Linked DNA regions of Homo sapiens. The protein of the gene in region 1 interacts with the protein of each later gene in a biochemical or structural test. Each region holds a gene or a part of one and is shown in the gene's direction. Other genes may lie near its edges.

The links.
Region 2: the proteins of RAB11FIP3 (region 1) and RACGAP1 form a complex in vitro, tested with the Homo sapiens proteins (one study listed by IntAct).

What each region holds. Positions count from the first base shown.
Region 1 is NC_000016.10:496,805-508,067, forward strand, and holds part of RAB11FIP3 (rab11 family-interacting protein 3), read left to right. Parts: intron 1-19; coding exon 20-55; intron 56-487; coding exon of another isoform or gene 488-497; exon of another isoform or gene 498-3,183; intron 3,184-6,199; coding exon 6,200-6,293; intron 6,294-6,459; coding exon of another isoform or gene 6,460-6,489; exon of another isoform or gene 6,490-6,861; intron 6,862-8,719; coding exon 8,720-8,823; intron 8,824-11,263. UniProt on the Homo sapiens protein: Downstream effector molecule for Rab11 GTPase which is involved in endocytic trafficking, cytokinesis and intracellular ciliogenesis by participating in membrane delivery. Recruited by Rab11 to endosomes where it links Rab11 to dynein motor complex.
Region 2 is NC_000012.12:49,990,232-50,001,494, reverse strand, and holds part of RACGAP1 (rac GTPase-activating protein 1), read left to right. Parts: intron 1-242; coding exon 243-323; intron 324-1,761; coding exon 1,762-1,879; intron 1,880-2,223; coding exon 2,224-2,354; intron 2,355-4,290; coding exon 4,291-4,455; intron 4,456-6,985; coding exon 6,986-7,081; intron 7,082-7,165; coding exon 7,166-7,364; intron 7,365-8,839; coding exon 8,840-8,945; intron 8,946-9,117; coding exon 9,118-9,250; intron 9,251-9,361; coding exon 9,362-9,497; intron 9,498-10,702; coding exon 10,703-10,811; intron 10,812-11,151; coding exon 11,152-11,227; 3' UTR 11,228-11,263.

The sequences.
Region 1 (11,263 bases):
TATTTTGTTTTCTGCACAGTCCGACAAAGCGGCTCTCCAGCAAGAAGGTGGCAAGGTAGGTGGGTCTCTGGTTCCTGCTGAAAAACGTTCTGAAGTGGATAATTAATCATAGTTTTTTAAAAAACATTTTAAAATGTTCTTTTCCAAGGTATTTTTTAAACTCTTGCAAGTTACTTTACATGGTTTGGGGCTGAAGGTATCCTGAAGGAGTGTTGGGAAAGGGGTTTCCAGGGCTGTGAATTTGGACCTGGATTTGTGACCAGGGAGGGTACGTGTCAGAGCTTTTGGTGCTGGGCCTCTTGTGTGTTCACTAAGGTCTGGAAGGGGCCGCCATCCCCAGATGTCTGCTCTATGTTAGCTCTGAGGTAGCGAGACCCAGTGAGGAGCCTGGCTTCTCAGAGCCGGGTCTGGGCAGCTCCCCAAGGTGAGTCGAAGGTGAGGGATGGGTCTGACTCCAATTCCTAAAGACCATTTCTTCATTTTCCAGCTTCGTATAGATCTGTTGGCTTCCTGCTGTGAAAGATGGCAACATACACTTTTATCTTCCTCCCCTGCCAGTTCTTACCGAAATAAACATGCAGGGTTAAGGCCCTTCCCAGGGAGCCACTCAGTGTGGCTGCCGGGTGGCCTCTGCTGCCGTCAGAGTCTGCCTTTGTGTCTTTATCTGCTTTGCCTTCCTAGTCCCCGTCCTGCTTCGTGGCCCGGCATCTGGCAGGGCTGGGAGACGCCTCTCCAGCTTCCTCTGGAGCATCCCCTCTGGAGCCTCCTCTCTGCCCTGTTGTGCCGGGCGTTCTCCAGGCCTCGTGGCTGTGGTCCTGGACAGGTCTCCCCACACTGGTGGGTTCCTTTGTTTCGGGGGTTGGATCCTCTAGCTCCCTGGCCCCGTCTTCCTTCTCATTTGTTTTCTCTGGTTTTTGTCCAGCGTATCTTCCTGTAGCTTCTTGAGAAAAGAGGTGCTCAGGAGATAAACTTGAGCTTGGGTTGGTTTGTACTGTGAGAGTGGGATCATTTTCCTGTAAGATTTTTGACGGCATTGCTTATCTTCTAGAGCTAAAGTTGTTACCATGAAGTTTAACCTTTCTGACTCGGTTTCTTTGGGACCAGCCTGAGCAACTTAGTGAAACCCTGTCTCTACAAAAAAAAAAAAAAAATTAAAAATTAAAAATTAAAAAAAAAAAAGGAAAATAGGCAAGGTCTAGCTGCGTTGCCCAGGCTGTAGTGCAGTGAGTGGCAATTCATAGGTGCAAGCATAGCTCACAACAGCCCCAGACTCCCTGGGCTTAAGTAATCTTTCCACCTCAGCCTCCCAAAATTCTCGGATTACAGAGGTAAGCCACCACACCCAGCCAAGAACAGAAACCTTTTGTTTTCCATTTTCTTTTATTTTGAGACATTGTCTTGCTCTGTCACCTGGGCTGAAGTACCGTGGTGCAATCACAGCTCACTGCAGCCTGGACCTCTCAGGCTCACTCCATCCTCCCACCTCCTCCTCCTGAGGACCTGGGACTACAGGTGCGCATTGCCAATGCCTGGCTAGTCTTTTAATTTTTAATAGAGATGGAGTTTCACTACGTTGCCCAGACTGATCTTGAGCTCCTGGGCTGAAGGGATCCTCCCACCTTGGCCTCCCAAAGTACTGGGATCACAGGCATGAGCCGTCACACCTGGCCATGGATGAAAACTTTTTTCTTTTTGTTTCTCTTCTCTTTTCTTGGCTTTCTTTTCTTTTTGAGACAGTCTTGCTCTGTCTTGCTCTGTGAAGTGACATCATCACAGCTCTCAATAGTTTTCACTTCCCAGACCTCCCAAGCTCAAATGATCCTCCCTCCTCAGCCTCCCGAGCAGCTGAGACCACAGGCGCATGCCACCATACCCAGATGATTTTTTAATTTTTTGTAGAGACAGGCCCAGACTGGTCTTGAACTCCTGGGCTCTAGCAGTCCTCCCACCTCGGTCTCCCAGAATGTTGGAATTACAGGCAGGAGCCACCGCGTCCCACTTGTTTTCCATTTTCTGTCATTTTAGGGGCTAGGGGCTAGGGGCTAGAGGAAGCAGAGGTGAACGTCATCATGCATCTTTTTCTAACTGTCTTCTTGCTCACCCCTTTCAGAAAAGCATTGAGCTGGCCGGGCGTAGTAGGTCACGCCTGTAATCCCAGCACTTTGGGAGGCTGAGGTGGGTGGATCACCTGAGGTTGGGAGTTCAAGACCAGCCTGGCCAAAATGGAGAAACCCCATCTCTACTAAAAAAATACAAGATTAGCCAGGTGTGTTAGCAGGTGCCTGTAATCCCAGCTACTCAGGAGACTGAGGCAGGAGAATCACCTGAACCCTGGAGGCGGAGCTTGGAGTGAGCCGAGATTGTGCCATTGTACTCCAGCCTGGGCAACAAGAGCGAGACTCCATCTCAAAAAAAGAAAGAAAAAGAGAAGCATTGAGCTCTTAGGAACGTGACGTGCATCCCCAGCTACACTTCTGTTACCACTTCAGCATCACCTTCCTCCCCGCTTCATCAAGTCTTTTACTCCAGACAGGCTGCAGCTGGTGACATGAAAGACCGGTCAAGGCCAGCTAAGGCATCTGCTTGAGGCCTCCCGTGCCTAGGATGGGGCGCAGCCTGCAGTTGGCTGTCACAGCCTTGTGTCAGAAACACCCTTTAAAATTTAATGTTTCCTTCACGGGTACCCTTTGGCATAAAAAAAGCCCAATCTGAGCCGGACGCAGTGGCTCACGCCTGTAATCCCAGCACATTGGGAAGCCAAGGTGGGTGGATCACGAGGTCAGGAGTTCAAGAACAGCCTGACCAACATGGTGAAACCCCGTCTCTACTAAAAATACAAAAATTAGTTAGGCATGGTGGCACACATGCCTGTAATCCCAGCTACTCAGGAGCCTGAGGTAGGAGAACTGCTTGAACCCAGAAGGCAGAGGTTACAGTGAGCCCAGATCACGCCACTGCACTCTAGCCTGGGCGACAGAGCAAGACTGTCTCAAAAAAAAAAAAAAAAAAAAAAGCTCCATCTGCAGTTATCTGTCGTTAGAGTTTACAAAACAGAGACCTCTTCTGCAGTGTGTCTATCCACATGTAAATATATGTACACAAGATTTAATCTGTTGTTTTGCCCCAAATCTGCCACAAGAGGCTAAGGAAGAGCAAAATAAACGTCGCGATTCGCTTCTCACAGTTCTCAGCCCTTCGCGCTGAACTATTGCTGAGATGGTGGGTTTTGCCAGCAGCCATTGTAGCCCCCGGGCCTGGCTGCATTGCTCACCTCCCTCAGCCTTGTTCTGTCCCTGTCCATGAGATGGAAGTGGCTTTCTCCAGTCAGCTGTGTGTGCAGAGACCGGGGGCTCCGGGCAGAGCCGAGTCCATCAGGACTGGAGGAAGTGCTCACAGCAGGCAGGCTCCCTGGGCCCTGGGTGGGAGGCCTCAGGGATCCCCGTACCTCCTTGCTCACCAGCCAGGCTCGACCTACTGCCCTGTGGGGCAGGTCAGGCTTTTTCCACAGCTCCCTCTCTGGGAGGAGGGTCCTTCCAAGTGAGGGTGTGGTGTAGCTGGAGAATCCCTCTTTCTAGGGGATTTAAATAAGCAGCCCCAGCCGGACGCGGTGGTTCACGCCTGTACTCCCAGCACTTTGGGGGGCCGAGGCGCACAGATCACGAGGTCAGGAGTTTGAGACCAGCCTGGCCAACATAGTGAAACCCCATCTCTACTAAAAAAAACAATACAAAAAGTTAGCTGGGCATGGTGGCAGGTGCCTGTAATCCCAGCTACCTGGGAGGCTGAGGCAGGAGAATGGCTTGAACCCGGAAGGCAGAGGTTGCAGTGAGCTGAGATTGCACCACTGCACTCCAGCCCAGGTGACAGTGCAAGACTCTGTCGCAAAAAAAAAAAAAAAAAAAAAAAAAAAAATTAAATAAGTAAATAAATAAGCAGCCGCATGACCCATGCTGAGGACCCTCTGCCTCACGTTGGTGGCCACGTGTGGTGGCTGCACGCTGGGTGCCTGGGGATGGCTGTGTCCCCGAGTCAGCCCCAGAAGTGCCTACGCCTCTAGGACAGCTCAGAAGTGCTGACAGGTCGTGGCCTCTCAGGATGGGCTCTGGGTTGCAGCTTCATGCCTGGAGTGGCTCATGTTTGGGGGCAAGGTCATGGGCGTTTAAGAGCAGCGACTGGCCAAGAACATGATCTGTATCAGCAGCAGCTTTTGAGAATCTGATGAAATCCCCAGAGCCCCAGAAGGGCACCGGTGTGTTCCAGCTGGTGCACGTTCACAGGGCTTGTCTCCTCAGAGCGTTTATGGGGAAAAAGATGGAAATGTTCAAGCCCAGTCCGTACTGAGAAGCAAATCGAACTTCATACACTTGGTAGACATTTTCAGTGGAAAAATATTAACATTTTATGGAATTCTTACTCTGCTACGTCCCTAGCCAAGCTGTTTGTATGCATGACCTTGGTTAAACCTCAGTTGCCTCTAGACCCCCATTTCATAGGCAAGGAAGCTGGGAGAGGGTCCCCCCATTTCATAGGCAAGGAAACTCGGAGAGGGTCCCCCCATTTCATAGGCAAGGAAGCTCGGAGAGGGTCTCCCATTTCATAGGCAAGGAAGCTGGGAGAGGGTCCCCCCATTTCATAGGCAAGGAAGCTCGGAGAGGATCCCCCCATTTCATAGGCAAGGAAGCTGGGAGAGGGTCCCCCCATTTCATAGGCAAGGAAGCTCGGAGAGGGTCCCCCATTTCACAGGCAAGGAAGCTGGGAGAGGGTCCCCCATTTCATAGGCAAGGAAGCTGGGAGAGGGTCCCCCCATTTCACAGGCAAGGAAGCTGGGAGAGGGTCCCCCCATTTCACAGACAAGTTCAGAGAGGCTCCCCCCATTTCATAGGCAGGGAAGCTGGGAGAGGGTCCCCCCATTTCACAGACAAGTTCGGAGAAGGTCCCCCATTTCATAGGCAAGGAAGCTGGGAGAGGGTCCCCCCATTTCACAGGCAAGGAAGTTCAGAGAGGGTCCCCCCATTTCACAGACAAGGAAGTTCGGAGAGGATCCCCCATTTCATAGGCAAGGAAGCTGGGAGATGGTCCCCCCATTTTATAGGCAAGGAGTCTGGGAGAGTGTCCCCCCATTTCATAGGCAAGGAGGCTGGGAGAGGGTCCCCCCATTTCATAGGCAAGGAGGCTGGGAGAGGGTCCCCCCATTTCATAGGCAAGGAAGCTCGGAGAGGGCCAGTGCTTTTTAACGGTCACGCAGTTCTGAGCATCAGGCTGTCAGCCTGGAGCCTGGCTTGGTACTGAGGTTCCCAGGATGTATAAAGAACTGAACACGCACCTTTGCTGTTGGCTCTTCTGTGCGAGTGCTCTGAGAGTTTTCTGTACTCCCGGCAAGTTTGGGTTGGTACAGATTCACCACAGCGAATCTGACCACGTGGTGACCACAAGCACGCGCTTACTGCGCGCCTAAGTTCACACTCCCTGGAGAAGCTCCTGCCCCAAGGCCGCAGCCTATGGGCCTTTGCGTCTACTCAGGACCATGAGGCTGTGTCCCCGAGCCTGGCCCGGGTAGTAACTGGCATGGCCTGCGGTGCTGGGGGCGTGTCCACAGGAGCTGGTGCCACAGAGGACACGTGTGTCTGCTGTCTTCCTGGACTCGGTCGGACCAGTTTCCCAGTGTGTCCGTGAGGGTGACACTGAGTGAGACTTCTGGGATCCACACCTTTCCTGGGACCCTCACTCTTCCTGCCACAGAAAGCACCTGTGAAAGTCTGAGATCAAGAATGTGCACAGGGGAGGTGTCTGCAGGTCAAGGTCCTGAGCTGATGTCTCACAGGCCTCTGGTAGAGACGAGATTGTTCGTGTCTCTGCGAAGAAGGGCATGTTTTATTGCAGCCAAGTACAAAGTCCTCTCTGCCACTCGCTGGCTGGGACTGAGGTCATGTTCTGTCAGGTTCCAAAGAGCGCCAGGAAGACTCTGAGACCACAGAGCACGGCCTGCTTTCTCCCAGCCCCTGGTAAAGATGTCCAGCCTGGGACCTCCCCCTGTATATAGTGCTTTAAGTGGGAGAAGACCACCACCCAGATCAGGGGAGGACCTGTCCCCTGCAATGCTGCTGCCTGCTTTTCAGATTGACTTGGGAGTGCTTGTGCTGACGGAGCATGTCCTGTGGTTTTTCCCTTTCTTCCCTCTGTTGTTGTGCCTTTTCTGTAGGTACCTGCACCAGTCAGGGGCCCTGACCATGGAGGCCCTGGAGGACCCTTCCCCCGAGCTCATGGAGGGCCCAGAGGAGGACATTGCTGACAAGGTAGGCCCTGGAGGGCTGGGTAGGTGGCAAGTAGGGGATTTAGAACACAGCCACGCCTAAGGGCCGCTGCAGACACCCCGGGAGGTGGGGACAGCACAGCCGGAGGTGACCCCATGTCCTCCAGGGCTCCCCAGACTGTCCATCCAGCCCCGATGCTCTTTGGCAGGTTTCCCCAAGGGGTCTCGTGGCCATGTGAGAAAAAGGAGTCTTCCTGTTGTGCACGAAGGGCCAGCTGGGAGGAGTGGACTGGGCAGTGAGTGAGCACCCTCGGGTATCCCACCCCCACTGTGTCTGAGTCGGGCTGGGGGACACCCAGACATTCAGTCCACCAGGCCCATGGAGACGCGACCTGGGGCACCCATGATTTGGGAGAAAAGGGCTGGCCCTGCAGTTACTGCAGAGCCAACAGCCTGAGGAACGGGCTTCTCCTGGGGCCTTGAATGGAATGGGTGACAGCAGCCAGGGCAAGGCAGCCTTGCCGTGGTCAAGACCCGCTTTTCAGCCAGATGTGGTGGCTCACGCCTGGAATCCCAGCACATTAGGAGGCCTAGGCGGGCAGATCACTTGAGGTCAGGAGTTTGAGATCAGCCTGGCCAACATAGTGAAAACCCGTCTCTACTAAAAATACAAAAGTTAGCCACGCATGGTGGCGGGCAACTGTAATCCCAGCTATTTGGGAGGCTGAGGCAGGAGAATCACTTGAACCTGGGAGGTGGAGGTTGCAGTGAGCCGAGATTGCACGACTGCACTCCAGCCTGGGCGACAGAGGGAGACTCCGTCTCACCTTCTGCACCCCCTCACCTTCTGTGACCCCTTCACTTACTCCTGTACCCCCTCAATTCCTCCTGTACCCCTCATCTCCTCCTGTACCCCCTCACCACCTCCTGTACCCCCTCACCACCTCCTGTACCCCCTCACTACCTCCTGTACCCCCTCACTACCTCCTGTACCCCCTCACCTCCTCCTGTACCCCCTCACCTCCTTGTGTACCCCCTCACCTCCTGTACCCCCTCACCTCCTCCTGTACCCCCCCACCTCCTCCTGTACCCCCTCACCTCCTCTTGCACTCCCATCTCCTCCTGTACCCCCTCACCTCCTTGTGCACCCCCTCACCTCCTGTACCCCCTCACCTCCTCCTGTACCCCCTCACCTCCTCCTGTACCCCCTCACCTCCTCCTGTACCCCCCTCACCTCCTCCTGTACCCCCTCACCTCCTCCTGCACTCCCATCTCCTCCTGTACCCCCTTACCTCCTTGTGCACCCCTCACCTCCTGTACCCCCTCACCTCCTCCTGTACCCCCCTCACCTCTTCCTGCACTCCCATCTCCTCCTGTACCCCCTCACCTCCTTGTGCACCCCTCACCTCCTGTACCCCCTCACCTCCTCCTGTACCCCCCTCACCTCTTCCTGTACCCCCTCACCTCCTCCTGCACTCCCATCTCCTCCTGTACCCCCTCACCTCCTTGTGCACCCCTCACCTCCTGTACCCCCTCACCTCCTCCTGTACCCCCCTCACCTCTTCCTGTACCCTTCACTTCCTCCTGTACCCCCTCACCTCCTCCTGCACCCCCCTTACCTCCTGTACCCCCTCACCTCCTCCTGTACCGCCTCACCTCCTCCTATACCCCCTCACCTCCTCCTATACCCCCTCACCTCTTCCTGCACCCTCCTCACCTCCTCCTGCACCCCCATCTCCTCCTGTACCCCCCTCACCTCCTGTACCCCCTCATCTCCTGTACCCCCTTACCTCCTCCTGCACCCCTCACCTCCTGTACCCCCTCACCTCCTCCTGCTCCCCCACCTCCTCCTATACCCCCATCTCCTCCTGTACTCTCTCACCTCCTCCTGTACCTCCTCACCTCCTCCTGTACTTCACCTCCTCTTGCATCCCCACCACCTCCTCCCTACAACTTCTCTAGCATCTCAAGTCTGCTGACCCAGGCCAAGTCCTCCTCTGCTCCCTTCACTCCTTCTCCTACCTCCGCAGGTGTCTGATTCTCATCTTGGTGTGAACTCTCTGAGGGAGGGACCGAGACATGGATCTGTCTGTCCCTTGCATCCATGGGCACCTGGGCTGCCTCTGTGAGCTGCATCTGGCTGAGCAGAGACCCAACTGTGTGTTGGGGGGCTGAGTCTTGCTGCCCACCAGCCAGCCAGTCCAAAGGCACCCCTGGGCCCCGAGCCCTCAGAGCTGCGGCACTGTGTGCATTTGTGGGTCGAATGACAGTGCTCCCCAAGACCCCGGCCCCATTAGGAGCTGCACCTTTGTGGGTTTATGGGACAAGTTGGATCCAACACCAGCCTAGCTAGGTGGATCTGATTCTGTGCTGAGAAAATCCCCAGGCGGCCTCCCAGGTTGTTCCCTTGGGGGTGCAGGCCCTTCTGCTTCTGGCTGCCTGACCCTGAAGCCTGGTCTCATTGCCAAGGTTGTCTTCCTGGAAAGGCGTGTGCTGGAGCTGGAAAAGGACACGGCAGCCACCGGTGAGCAACACAGCCGCCTGAGGCAGGAGAACCTGCAGCTGGTGCACAGGTGAGCCTGGGCCAGGAGACCCGGGCCTCTGCGTGGCGCCTCCTGTGCCCGCCTGTCAGCCCCCATTTACTTCTCTTTACCTCACACAGCAGGGGCTTGGCCACCCGTCCATCCCCGTTGGAAGCCGGCTGAGGGGGTGGTGCCAGGTGGTCATCTGAGCCTACCCAGTGGGCTGCAGGCAGGCGACCCGAGGCTCTGACTGGTGCTCTCATGGAACCCTAGACACACAGAGGGCCAGAGGAGGGCACTGCCTCCCTCTCGGGAGCGCTGAGACCTGACCCACACAGAGGAGGAACTGACTGCGAACCCACGCAGTGCTCAGCCTCACCAGCAGGCCTGGAGGTGCAGCTCTCCCACCACTCTGGTCCATACGGGGTTTGCCCGTCCTGGAAGAATGCAGGTTAGAGAAGTCGCTCAGCAGCAGAAAGCGAAATGAGCAGTGACTGCTGAGTACGCGACAGGACGCGCAGTCTCATCGCTGTGGGCAGGAGTGCTGGGGAGGAAGCGAAGTGTGACGCCGTGTTTGCAGAGAAAGAGTGGGAGCTGCTTGCCTCACTCTGGTTTGCAGACTTTTCTTAGAATACCGTGTAATTCTCGGTGTTTTTCACACGAGGCACGCCATGTTGTCTCATAGCCGATTTGCAGGACTGTTTCCGGTGCAAAGTAAGATGAGCTTGTCCCAGGAGTCAGCTACCCAGGCTATGACACCTGTAGCTGGGCACCGGCAGCCTCTTGTGGGCAGAGGAGGCAGCCAGGAGGCCTATGAGGCACCTGTGGGATCTGCAGAAGAGGTTCTTCCTGTGAGCTTCTGTCCCTGCCCAGCTGCGCGGGCACATCCCGGCTCTTCCACATATTCTCAGCTCGGCCAAGGGCCCTGTCCCTTGAAGCTTCAGTGTCTTCATCACCACTGAGCAGGTAGATTCAGGGCTCTGAGCAGCCTGCACACACGTGTGTTGGCAGCAGGGCATTTGTGGTCAGCATCCCCAAAGCCCCCAAGCCCTCACCCTCACGGTACTAACATTTGTGACCATCTGCCCTGTGAGCGCTGAGAATTGGAATGCCTCATGGGATTGTGGGCATAACTTGCACATCATTTTAATTCTAACAAAGCAAAGCATGTGCTCTTGTGGAGTGAAGACCCTGGGCTTGGCGGCTGCCCGTTCTCCAGGATTCTCAGCAGAAGAGGGCCTGCTACCAGCCCCTGCTGCAGAGTGGAGAGGGGCCAGGCATGCTGGTGAAGGGGCTGGACTCCCGTAGTGCGCTACACATAAGCAGTGCCACCAAAGACCACTGTCTCCTCCTTGTCAAGGAGAATCCGGGGGGCTGCCAGATGCACTTGTTTTGTTTTGTTTTTTGAGAGACAGGGCCTCGCTCTGTTGCTCAGGCTGAGTGCTGACTACAGCCTCCACCTCCCAGGCTCAAGCGACCCGCCTCCCTCAGCCTTCGATGTAGCTGGGACTACAGGTGTGCACCACCACACCCAGCTTTTTTTTTTTTTTTTTTGAGACGGGGTCTCTCTCTGTCTCCAGGCTGGAGTGCAGTGGCGCAATCTTGGCTCACCGCAACCTCCGCATCCCAGGTTCAAGCGATTCTTCTGCCTCAGCCTCCTGAGTAGCTGGGACTTGCAGGCATGCACCACCACGCTGGGCTAATTTTTGTATTTTTAGTAGAGACGGGGTTTCACCATATTGACCAGGCTGGTCTTGAACTCCTGACCTTGTGATCTGCCTGCCTCAGCCTCCCAAAATGCTGGGATTACAGGCGTGAGCCACCGTGCCCGGCCTAGTTTTTAATTTTTTTATAGAGATGAGGTCTTGCCATGTTGCCCATGCTGGTCTCAAACGCCTGGCCTCAAGCGATCCTCCCACCTTGGCCCCCCAAAGTGCTGAAATCAGAGGCGTGAGCCACCATGTCCAGCCTAGATGCCTTTGTCGAGTTGACTGTGGAGGTTTCATTTGAGTCTGGAGTATGTTCATCTGTTTTCCGTGTGTGTGGTGTGAAGTCCACACTGCCGCCTGGCACCACCCACTGACCGTCTGCAGTGCAGCCCCGGCCACATTCAGTTCCTGTGGCTGTTCCCTGTGGTGCTCACCTCCAACGTCCTAAACAACACGTTTCCCGTTTTCAGTATCATCTGCCCGTTCTGAGCCATTTGCTCTCTAGCCCTACCATACAGCTGCCATCCTAAGAGTACGTTTCCCGTTTTCAGTATCATCTGCCCGTTCTGAGCCATTTGCTCTCTAGCCCTACCATACAGCTGCCATCCTAAGAGTACGTTTCCCGTTTTCAGTATCATCTGCCCGTTCTGAGCCATTTGCTCTCTAGCTGTGCCGTACAGCTGCCATCCTAGGAATTCCGAGTGCTTTCTCCTGTGTTTGATTCCTTATTTTCTGGGTCCCACGTTTTCTTCTGTTTTGCCAACTCATTTTCTGAGTATGTC
Region 2 (11,263 bases), on another chromosome or scaffold:
CTCCATAGCTTGCTCATTTTTTCTAGGGCACTGAGAGCATTTTTGTACAACATATTCTTTTGAAACAGCTTATTCTTCATGTGGAAATAGGCAAAGAGAGAGAGAGAGAGAACACATTGTTTGTTATTTACTGTAGCCCTAATCCCCAGGACCTGTATCCAAGTTGTTTGATGGAATAATTTTATCTTCTGTGCTTCAGATCTGCTTGGCATTAAAGTTACGGGTCTTTGTCTCCTTTCTAGCGCTCTACTAGCCGACAGTTTGTTGATGGTCCCCCTGGACCTGTAAAGAAAACTCGTTCCATTGGCTCTGCAGTAGACCAGGTAAGAATAGTCAGGCCAAGGTAACAGAGATTACTGGCCCCAAGCATTAAAACTTCTCTGAGTCAGCATTGCAGCATTGTTTTGAGAGACATGATGTTTAGTTAAAGTTTTTGTTTGTTTTTTGAGACAGAGTTTTGTTCTTGTAGCCCAGGCTGGAGTGCAATGGCACCATCTTGGCTCACTGTAACCTCCACCTTCCAGGTTCAAGTGATTCTCTTGTCTCAGCCTCCCACGTAGCTGGGATTACAGGCGCATGCCACCACGTCTGGCTAATTTTTGTATTTTTAGTAGAGACAGGGTTTCATCATATTGGTCAGGCTGGTCTCGAACTCCTGACCAGGTGATCTACCTGCCTCAGCCTCCCAAAGTGCTGGGATTACAGGCGTGAGCCTCCGTGCCTGGCCTTTGGTTAAAGTTTTTCTATGCAGTAGGATCCTTATCCCTATGAATGGAATTACTCTGATGTAGTAAACAACTGTCAGAGTGAGTCTTAGTTGCTTGAATATATACCCCCATGACCTATGTTTATCTTCTTAGGTACGAGATTTCTTTATTTTTACTTTTTAAAGTAGAGGGGGAGTCTCTCCTTGCTGCCCAGGATGACTCGAACTGCGGGGCTCAAGTGATCTTCCCACCTTGGCCTCCCAAAATGCTGGGATTGCAGGCATGAGCCACTGCACCCAGCCAAACATCAGATTTCAACATAAGAATGTTTCAGGTCAGGCGTGGTGGCTCACGCCTGTAATCCCTGCACTTTGGGAGGCCTAGGCAGGTGGATGATCACCTGAGGTCAGGAGTTCGAGACCAGCCTGGTCAACATGGCGAAATCCCGTCTCTACTAAAAATACAAAAATCAGTCGGCCAGGCGCGGTGGCTCACGCCTGTAATCCTAGCACTTTGGGAGGCTGAGGCGGGTGGATCACGAGGTCAGGAGATTGAGACCATCCTGGCTAACACAGTGAAACCCCATCTCTACTAAAAATACAAAAAATTAGCTGGGCATGGTGGCAGACGCCTGTAGTCCCAGCTACTCGGGAGGCTGAGGCAGGAGAATGGCGTGAACCCGGGAGGTGGAGCTTGCAGTCAGCCGATATTGGGCCACTGTACTCCAGCGTGGGCGACACAGCGAGACTCCGTCTCAAAAAAAAAAAAATCAGTCAGGTGTGGTGGCGCATGCTTGTAATCCCAGCTACTCAGAAGGCTGAGGCAGGAGAATGCCTTGAACCTGGGAGGCGGAGGTTGCAGTGAGCCGAGATCACGCCACTGTTCTCCAGCCTGGGCGGTAGAGTGAAAAACTCTGTCTCAAAAAAAAAGTATCAGACTGGGGTCTTAAGTCTTGACTAAGACTAAGGAATTTTTTACCTGCTCCAAAATACCCTATAGTGGAGGGTAAGTTAGATTCTTTGTTTGTCTTTCCTCATTACTACTTTTGTTGCAGGGGAATGAATCCATAGTTGCAAAAACTACAGTGACTGTTCCCAATGATGGCGGGCCCATCGAAGCTGTGTCCACTATTGAGACTGTGCCATATTGGACCAGGAGCCGAAGGAAAACAGGTCCATTGAATTTGTGACTAAACTGGCCTGTGTAAAACAACTAGCAAAATTTTGGAGAGTTGGTTTCTTAGAACCCTCTGGAGGCGGGGATTGGATGTATTGGGTAGTTTCTTACTGCTGCATACCGAGGACCAGAGAACTGCTTGTGTCATGCTTTACCTTTGAATTGCTAGCCCACTGGCATAACTTTAGTTTTTCTTGAAACTGTTTTTTTACATAGCCATTAGTTCTCACTTTTGGCTATGATAACAGATTACTGTTTATCTCCCAGTTAAAATTGGAGCTAAAATTTAGAAGGAGCAAAATACTTAAGACACAAAGCTTAAAAGTTGCTTGTTTTCTAGGTACTTTACAACCTTGGAACAGTGACTCCACCCTGAACAGCAGGCAGCTGGAGCCAAGAACTGAGACAGACAGTGTGGGCACGCCACAGAGTAATGGAGGGATGCGCCTGCATGACTTTGTTTCTAAGACGGTAAATCTGTGATTGTTGTTTGTGTTTTAATTTTTTAATTGTGAAAGTAATAAATACCAGGAATAAAGTTAAATACTTTAGTGTTATAAAGTTAAATGTCAAATTTCCTTCCTCATTCCAATTTTACTCTCCAGAAGTAACTATTGGTTACAGAGGTAAGTTTCTTTCCATTCTGTGAGTAATACTAAATTAAAGAGACCAACTTTTCTGAAGCAATTGTTAGTACTTTTTTTTTTTTAATTTGAGACAGAGTCTTACTCTGTCACCCAGGCTGGAGTGCAGGGGTGTAATCATAGCTCACTGTAGCCTTAACCTCCCAGTCTCAAGCAATCCTCCTGCCTCAGCCTCCTGAGTAGTAGGGATACAGATGTGTGCCACCACGCCCGGCTAATTTTTAAATTTTTTGTAGAGACTTGGTCTTGCTATGTTGCTCAGGCTGGTCCTGAACTCCTGGGCTCAAGTGCTCCCCCTGCCTCAGCTCCCAAAGTCCTGGGATTACAGGCATGAGCTACTGTGCCTGGCCCATTGTTAGTACTTTTTAGTGACACATGTTTACATTTTTTCTTGAATATATCACCTAAGATTTTCAAAATGTTTTGCTTTTGTACCATTTTATTTCCTTATAAAAATCCAAGCAAATTAACTGAGGCTCAGAGGAGTTAACTGACATTTTTGAGCCACATGATAGTAAGTGACAGATTTCACATCCAGGTTTTCTTTTTTTCTTTTTTTTTCTTGAGACAGAGTCTCACTCTGTTGCCCAGGCTGGAGTGCAGTGGTGCGATTTCGGCTCACTGCAACCTCTGCCTCCCGGGTTCAAGCAATCCTCCTGCCTCAGCCTCCCGAGTAGCTGGGATTACAGGTGCCCACCACCATGCCCGGCCAATTTTTTGTACTTTTAGTAGAGATGGGGTTTCACCATGTTGGCCAGGCTGGTCTCAAACTACTGACCTCAGGTGATCCTCCCGCCTCAGCCTCCCAAAGTGCTGGGATTACAGGCGTGAGCCACCATGCCCTGCCAACATCCAAGTTTTCTGCTCTTTGTAAACAAGTTCTTTCCACTATCACACACTGCTGCCTTCCAGTGGGATGACCTTAAACAAGTTACTTAAACTCTCTTTGCTTCTGTTTCCTCATCTTAAAATGAAGAAAACAAAACCTATTTTATGGGATTACTGTGAGAATTACATATGTAAATATGTCTAAAGGGCTTAGAAAATTTTTTGGCACATACTAAGTGCTCAATAAATGTTAGTTGATTATGGCTGGGCACAGTGGCTCACGCCTGTAATCCCAGCACTTAGGGAGACTGACGCAGGCAGATCACCTGAGGTCGGGAGTTCGAGACCAGCCTGACCAACATGGAGAAACCCCGTCTCTACTAACAATATAAAAATTAGCCGGGCGTGGTGGCGCATGCCTGTAATCCCAGCTACTTGGGAGGCTGAGGCAGGAGAATCGCTTGAACCCGGGAGGTGGAGGTTGCAGTGAGCCAACCTCTACCACGCCATTGCACTCCAGCCTGGGCAACAAGAGCGAAACTCTGTCTCAAAAAAAGACAAAAAAAGGCCAGGCCCAGTGGCTCACGCCTGTAATCCCAGCACTTTGGGAGGTCGAGGTGGGTGAATCACAAGGTCAGGAGTTCGAGACCAGCCTGGCCAACATGGTGAAACCCTGTCTCTACTAAAAATACGAAAAATTAGCTGGGCGTAGTGGTGGGCACCTGTAATCCCAGTTACTCGGGAGGCTGAGACAGGAGAATCGCTTGAACCTGGGAGGCAGAGGTTGCAGTGAGCTGAAATCACACCACTGCACTCCAGCCCAGGCGAGAGAGTGAGATTCGGTCTCAAAAAAAAAAAAAAAAAAAAGTTAGTTGATTATGATGATAATTTTCTAATTCATATCACTCTGTTCCTTCTGCCCTGTTTTATCCCAGGTTATTAAACCTGAATCCTGTGTTCCATGTGGAAAGCGGATAAAATTTGGCAAATTATCTCTGAAGTGTCGAGACTGTCGTGTGGTCTCTCATCCAGAATGTCGGGACCGCTGTCCCCTTCCCTGCATTCCTACCCTGATAGGAACACCTGTCAAGATTGGAGAGGTATGACTTATGCAAGCCGTCATTGTTTTATGGCCTCTTTATTCGCCTTTCAAAGGCTTAGTGTCAGTTTTTGTTCTAAAATTAATCATCTCAAATATATTTCTTTCCACAAATAATGACTAGAATTGTAAGATACTTACTTGTAGAAGAGTCCTGTTTGGGTTTGTCTGTCTAATACCTTTCTAAACCAAACTTCTTTCCCCGCCCCTTTTTCCTTCTTGCTCTTCCCTGCTTCTCCTTGCCTCTTCTTCCTTCCTTCCTCCCCTTCATCCCATTTTGGAAAATTTCAGACATATATAAAACTAGAGAAATTAGTATAACTAACCCCTGGTTCTTATCACTTAACTTCCATGATTACTAACTTGTGTCCATTTTTTTTTTTTTTTTTTTTTTTTTTTTTTTTTTTTTTTTAGCTCTATTGCCTAGGCTGGAGTGCACTGGCAGGATGTCAGCTCACTGCAACCTCCGCCCCCCTGGGCTCAAGCGATTTTCTTGCCTCAGCCTCCCAAGTACCTGGAATTACAGGCATGTACCACCACCATGCCCGGCTAATTTTTTTTGGTTGTATTTTTTAGTAGAGATGGGGTTTCATCATGTTGGCCAGGGTGGTCTCAAGCTCCTGACCTCAAGTGATCCGCCCACCTCAGCCTCTCAAAGTGCTGAGACTACAGGCGTGAGCCACCGCGCCTGGTCATGTCCATTCTTTTTTTAATGTCTCTCTTTTTTTTGAGACAGAGTTTCCCTGTTGTCCAGGCTGGATTGCAGTGTTGCAACTTTGGCTCACTGCAGCCTCTGTCTCCTGGGCTCAAGTGATTCTCATGCCTCAGCCTCCCAAGTTGCTGGGACTACAGCCATGTGCCACCATGCTCAACTAATTTTTTTGTATTTTTAGTAGAGACGGGGTTTTGCCATGTTGGCCAGGCTGGTCTTGAACTCCTGACCTCAAGTGATCCGCCTGCCTCGGCCTCCTAAAGTGTTGGGATTCTAGGTGTGAGCCATGGCACCCAGCCTTTATGTCTGTTCTTGATTTATCAATACTGTCGTTGCCTCCTCCTGACTCTGTCCAATGAATTACTTGGAAGCAAATCTCAGCTATCATATAATTTTATCTGTGATAAAATTATCTTTTATTCTTGCTCTTATGTTAGACATACTTCATAATAGGTTATCAAAATGAAGTTGCTTATTTCCAAATATTTAACCAGTTTAATCCAAACTGATTAAATCCATTAAGAAATTATTTATTGCTGAGTGTGGTAGCTCATGCCTGTAATCCCAGCACTTTGGGAGGCTGAGGCAGGAAAATCACTTGAGCCCAAGAGTTTGAGACCAGCCTGGACAACAAAGCAAGACTCCATCTCTACAAAGAATAAATAAATAAGTTAGCCAGGTTAGTGGTGTGCGCCTGTGTTTGTAGCTCCTCAGGAGGCTAGGTTGGACTATTGCTTGAGGTGGGGAGGTTGAAACTGCAGTGAGCTGTGATCACACCACTGCACTCCAGCCTGGGGAATAGAGCAAGACCCTATCTCAAAAAAAAAAAAAATTATTATGTAAGTAACATTAGCAAGAATCAAAATGACTATCTTCCTACCTACTCTTCAGCAAATCAAATATTATTTTCCCCTGATCTTACAAGTTCTTATCCATGCCTGTACATTTTGTTTTGTTTTGTTTTGTTTTGTTTTGTTTTTGAGAGGGAGTTTTGTTCTTGTTGCCCAGGCTGGAGTGCAATGGCGCAATCTCGACTCACCACAACCTCCACCTCCTGGGTTCAAGCGATTCTCCTGCCTCAGCCTCCCTCATAGCTGGGATTACAGGCATGCGCCACCATGCCTGGCTAATTTTGTATTTTTAGTAGAGACAGGGTTTCTCCATGTTAGTCAGGCAGGTCTCGAACTCCTGACCTCAGGTGATCCGCCCACCTCGGCCTCCTACAGTGCTGGGATTACAGGCGTGAGCTACCGCACCTGGCCGCCTGTACATTTTTTTTACACATGTTCTGTACTCTAATATAGAACCATGGAGTTCTCCCCTACAGGTAGGTTTGTGTCATAATCAACTGATAAGATATGTTAAATAATTTTTTTTACTGAGAATAATGAAAGTATACACAATTTTTTTCTCTTGTTCCAGCTTTCTTCTGTTAGAAAAAAAAATCTGTTTAGAGTAATAAATTATTTTATATTAAAGGCTATACCTGTAACCTCATTATTGCTTGTTTTCTGCTGTCCTTGAGTGGATGAGAAGGAGGTAATTATAGCTGGTGGTCTTATTCCTTGTTCACATAACAGTGTGGTGTATATATGAAAAAGAAAAAGTGTGGTATATATGATAATAAATCAGTCCTGGTGTGGAGGTAGGAAAAATAATTGAGAGTCTCTGTTTTAATATATGCTTTGGGAATAGGAATGTAAAAGTAGACATGATGTCCCAGTTTGAGAATAAGATTGGAGGTGGTTCTTCGCATGTGGTCTTCATCTGTTGGTCTACATGGCGTAAATAATAATTTAAAGCTCTTTTTTTTTTCCAGGGAATGCTGGCAGACTTTGTGTCCCAGACTTCTCCAATGATCCCCTCCATTGTTGTGCATTGTGTAAATGAGATTGAGCAAAGAGGTCTGACTGAGGTAAGAGTCAACTGTAGGAGATGGTGAATTTGTTATTTGTGTTAATTCGGAGGTTTTTAAATAAAAATGTCATCTTGATAATAGACAGGCCTGTATAGGATCTCTGGCTGTGACCGCACAGTAAAAGAGCTGAAAGAGAAATTCCTCAGAGTGAAAACTGTACCCCTCCTCAGCAAAGTGGATGATATCCATGCTATCTGTAGCCTTCTAAAAGACTTTCTTCGAAACCTCAAAGAACCTCTTCTGACCTTTCGCCTTAACAGAGCCTTTATGGAAGCAGCAGGTAAGGGCAGATGTAATACTTGAATATGAATTCCTCCACGGCAGTAGTTTTTCTTACTCTCTTTATTTTTTTATTTATTTTTTATTTTTTAGACAGAGTCTCACTCTCGCCCAGGCTGAAGTCAGTGGCGCAATCTCAGCTCACTGCAACCTCCGTCTCCCAGGTTGAAGCGATTCTCCTGCCTCAGCCTCCTGAGTAGCTAGGATTACAGGCGTGTGCCACCATGCCTGGTTAATGTTTTCTATCTTTAGTAGAGATGGGGTTTCACCATGTTAGCCAGGATGGTCTCGATCTCCTGCCCTGTGATTTGCCTGCCTCGGCCTCCCAAAGTGCTGCGATTACAGGCGTGAGCCACCGTGCCCAGCCTCTTTTTTTTTTTTTTTTAAGACGGAGTCTTTCTCTGTCGCCCAGGCTGGAGTGCAGTGGCGCTATCGGCTCACTGCAAACTCCGCCTCCTGGGTTCAAGCGATTCTCCTGCCTCAGCCTCCTGAGTAGCTGAGATTACAGGCGTTAACGGTGTTATACCATGTTAGCCAGGCTGGTCTCAAACTCCTGACCTCAGGTGATCTACCCACCTTGTCCTCCCAAAGTGCTGGGATTACAGGCATGAGCCACCACACCTGGCCACCTTCCTCTTTTTATTAGCTCCTGCCTAGTACAATGCCTGAAACATAGTAGGTGCTCAAGTAGTTTGATGGATGAGTAACTGTATGCGTGTCACCCTTGCCTATCCTCTTGCTTTCTCATTACGTTATTGTGTACAGTGTTCTTCCTTTCTTTCCTTCCTCTCCAGTTAGGTTGGAGCTTTTTCAATTCTTAGAATATACCAAGTTTACTCCCTACCTTAAGGCCTTCACATTTGTTGTCTCAACCTGAATGCTCTTACATTAGATACAGTATGGTTTGCTCCTTTATTTCTTTCATATTTCTCTTCATATACCTTGTCCCCAGAAACACCTTTCCTGACAACCTTGTCTAGATTAACAGCTCTCATTTCTTTCTAGCTTCTTGCCTGCCTTGTTTTCTTCATTTATGTATCACTCTACCTGATAGGTATTTGCTTTTTGACTGACTCCACCAATAGAATGTAGGTTCCATAAGATAAGGGCTTTGTTTACTTCTGCTTTATCCTCAGCACTTGTACCTGGCACATCGTAGGCCCTTAAATATGTCTCATGAATGAATACCTTCTTGGTAATTGTAGTCACTGCAATTGTATGCCTGTCTGCCTAGCACATCAGTTGCCAACTGCTTTCCCTAACTGCAAAGGCCGATTTTTTAAAAGTTTTGACTTCTAATATTGAGCTGTTGGCCAGTATCCTGCTTGTTAATGAAACTAGAGTCTGATGTAGTCATGAACTAATCAGGAGTTTCAGAAGCTTACTGTATAGATGAGACTTTGTGGTCGATAACTTGGAAGCCCGCTGTCAAGGGAAAGAAGTCTAGGCCTCTTGGTGCTTTCTTTTCAATTACAGAAATCACAGATGAAGACAACAGCATAGCTGCCATGTACCAAGCTGTTGGTGAACTGCCCCAGGCCAACAGGGACACATTAGCTTTCCTCATGATTCACTTGCAGAGGTGAGTACAGCAGAAACTTGTTCTGGGAGTTAGGGAATTTTTTTCCAAGGGGAAGATAATGTGGGTTGAGTGTTTGGGAGTATGAGGGATGAATTGTTTTCTTATAGAATTTATATTTTGGTCTGCATTTAAGCAAGGAGCAAGACTTCTAATTTAATATTCTTTTGCTTAGAGTGGCTCAGAGTCCACATACTAAAATGGATGTTGCCAATCTGGCTAAAGTCTTTGGCCCTACAATAGTGGCCCATGCTGTGCCCAATCCAGACCCAGTGACAATGTTACAGGACATCAAGCGTCAACCCAAGGTAGGCAGGTGCGTGTGTGTGTGTATGTGAACTTGTGTAATGTGATAACTTGAAAGACAGTTGAGAAGCCCTGAGCTTTGGAAGTTTGCTAACAGATTTGCTGGCTTTTAGGTGGTTGAGCGCCTGCTTTCCTTGCCTCTGGAGTATTGGAGTCAGTTCATGATGGTGGAGCAAGAGAACATTGACCCCCTACATGTCATTGAAAACTCAAATGCCTTTTCAACACCACAGACACCAGATATTAAAGGTAAGGCCCAAGATGTGCTTCTTCAGGGACTTGACTCTCTCTTTAGTTTTAGTCATATGACCTCTTCCTGCCTTTGCTAGAGCTGTTTGAAAATTCTAACATTAAAGGAAAATTTGTATAATTCTACCATCGTAATTTTTTTTTGCTTTTCCATGTTCTCCTTTCTTTATCCATATGGATATATGTTTTTTAAATATAGATATAATAGGCTGGGCATGGTGGCTCACACCTGTAGTCCCAGCACTTTGGGAGGGAGGCTGAGGCGGACGGATCACAAGGTCAGGGGATTGAGACCATTCTGGCCAACATGGTGAAACCCCATCTCTACTAAAAATACAAAAATTAGCTGGGTGTGGTGGCGCATGCCTGTAATCCCAGCTACCAGGGCGGCTGAGGCACAAGGAATTGCTGGAACCCAGGAGGCGGAATTTGCAGTGAGCTGAGATCCCGCCACTGCACTCCAGCCTGGTGACAGAGTGAGACTCTGTCTAAAAAAAAAAAAAAAAAAAAAAAAAAAATATATATATATATATATATATAATAGTTTAAATATAATTCATTCTTATTTCACTTAGCATGTTGTGAGAACTTTTTCTCATGTATAATCTTATTTATCATTTACTTAAATGTTCTAGTAGGTATTAACATTATTTTTCAATTTTTCATAATTACAAGTAATGCTATAGTCAATATAGCATTTCTCTTAATGATAAATTCCTAAGAGTGGGATCACTGAATTAAATGGCTTGAACATTTTTATGTGTCTTGGTATGTTTTACCAACTTGATTTATTAAATTTCTTATAGGCTTTTGCCAATTTATATTGCTAACCAACAATTTTATATGAATAGGCTGGTTTCACTCCAGTCTCACTGGCATTGGAGACCCATTCTTTCATTATTGCAAGTTCCTTCTAAGGGAGCATATTGCTTCTTCTAGTATAGCTAAAAGTCAGATGTTTAGATGTTAGATTTGTGAAGTGTGGAGTTAGAGAATGGCCTAAATCAGGACGTGTCAGCTATTCATTGAGTTCAAAAGATACACTAGTGTGTTACAGAATGATGACAAAAATGATCTCTGGGACTTTGCTAGATGTCTAACCTTAGCTCTTAAGTGCTTCAGAGGGTAATCAGCTTAAAACTAGCCATCTAAAAAGATGCCTTCTTTTTTCCCACCTCTCTTAAAAATATGTCTGAACTTTGAAGTGAGTTTACTGGGACCTGTGACCACTCCTGAACATCAGCTTCTCAAGACTCCTTCATCTAGTTCCCTGTCACAGAGAGTCCGTTCCACCCTCACCAAGAACACTCCTAGGTATGCAGAATTGGCCTTCCTAGGAAATAAAAAACAACTACTTTCTTAGACTTCTTATTATATTGAAGCTTATTGAAAGAAAAATTGCATTCGATTTTAGCTAGCAACTAGACTTTAAAAGGGAACGTGGGGCTATAAGGATTCCTTCTTTAAAAAGGTTCTGAAAGTCTTTACTATTTCCCCTCTCTCGTTGTTGGTGACTAAGAATACTTAAGCAACTATTGCAAAATAGTTGTCTAGGGTTTCCTACTTATAATGGGTTATATCAAGTAATATTATAGTTGTTTATTCAACCATTTTTTATAGAATATTTTTCCAGTTCATTCTCTTTTTATTGTAGATTTGGGAGCAAAAGCAAGTCTGCCACTAACCTAGGACGACAAGGCAACTTTTTTGCTTCTCCAATGCTCAAGTGAAGTCACATCTGCCTGTTACTTCCCAGCATTGACTGA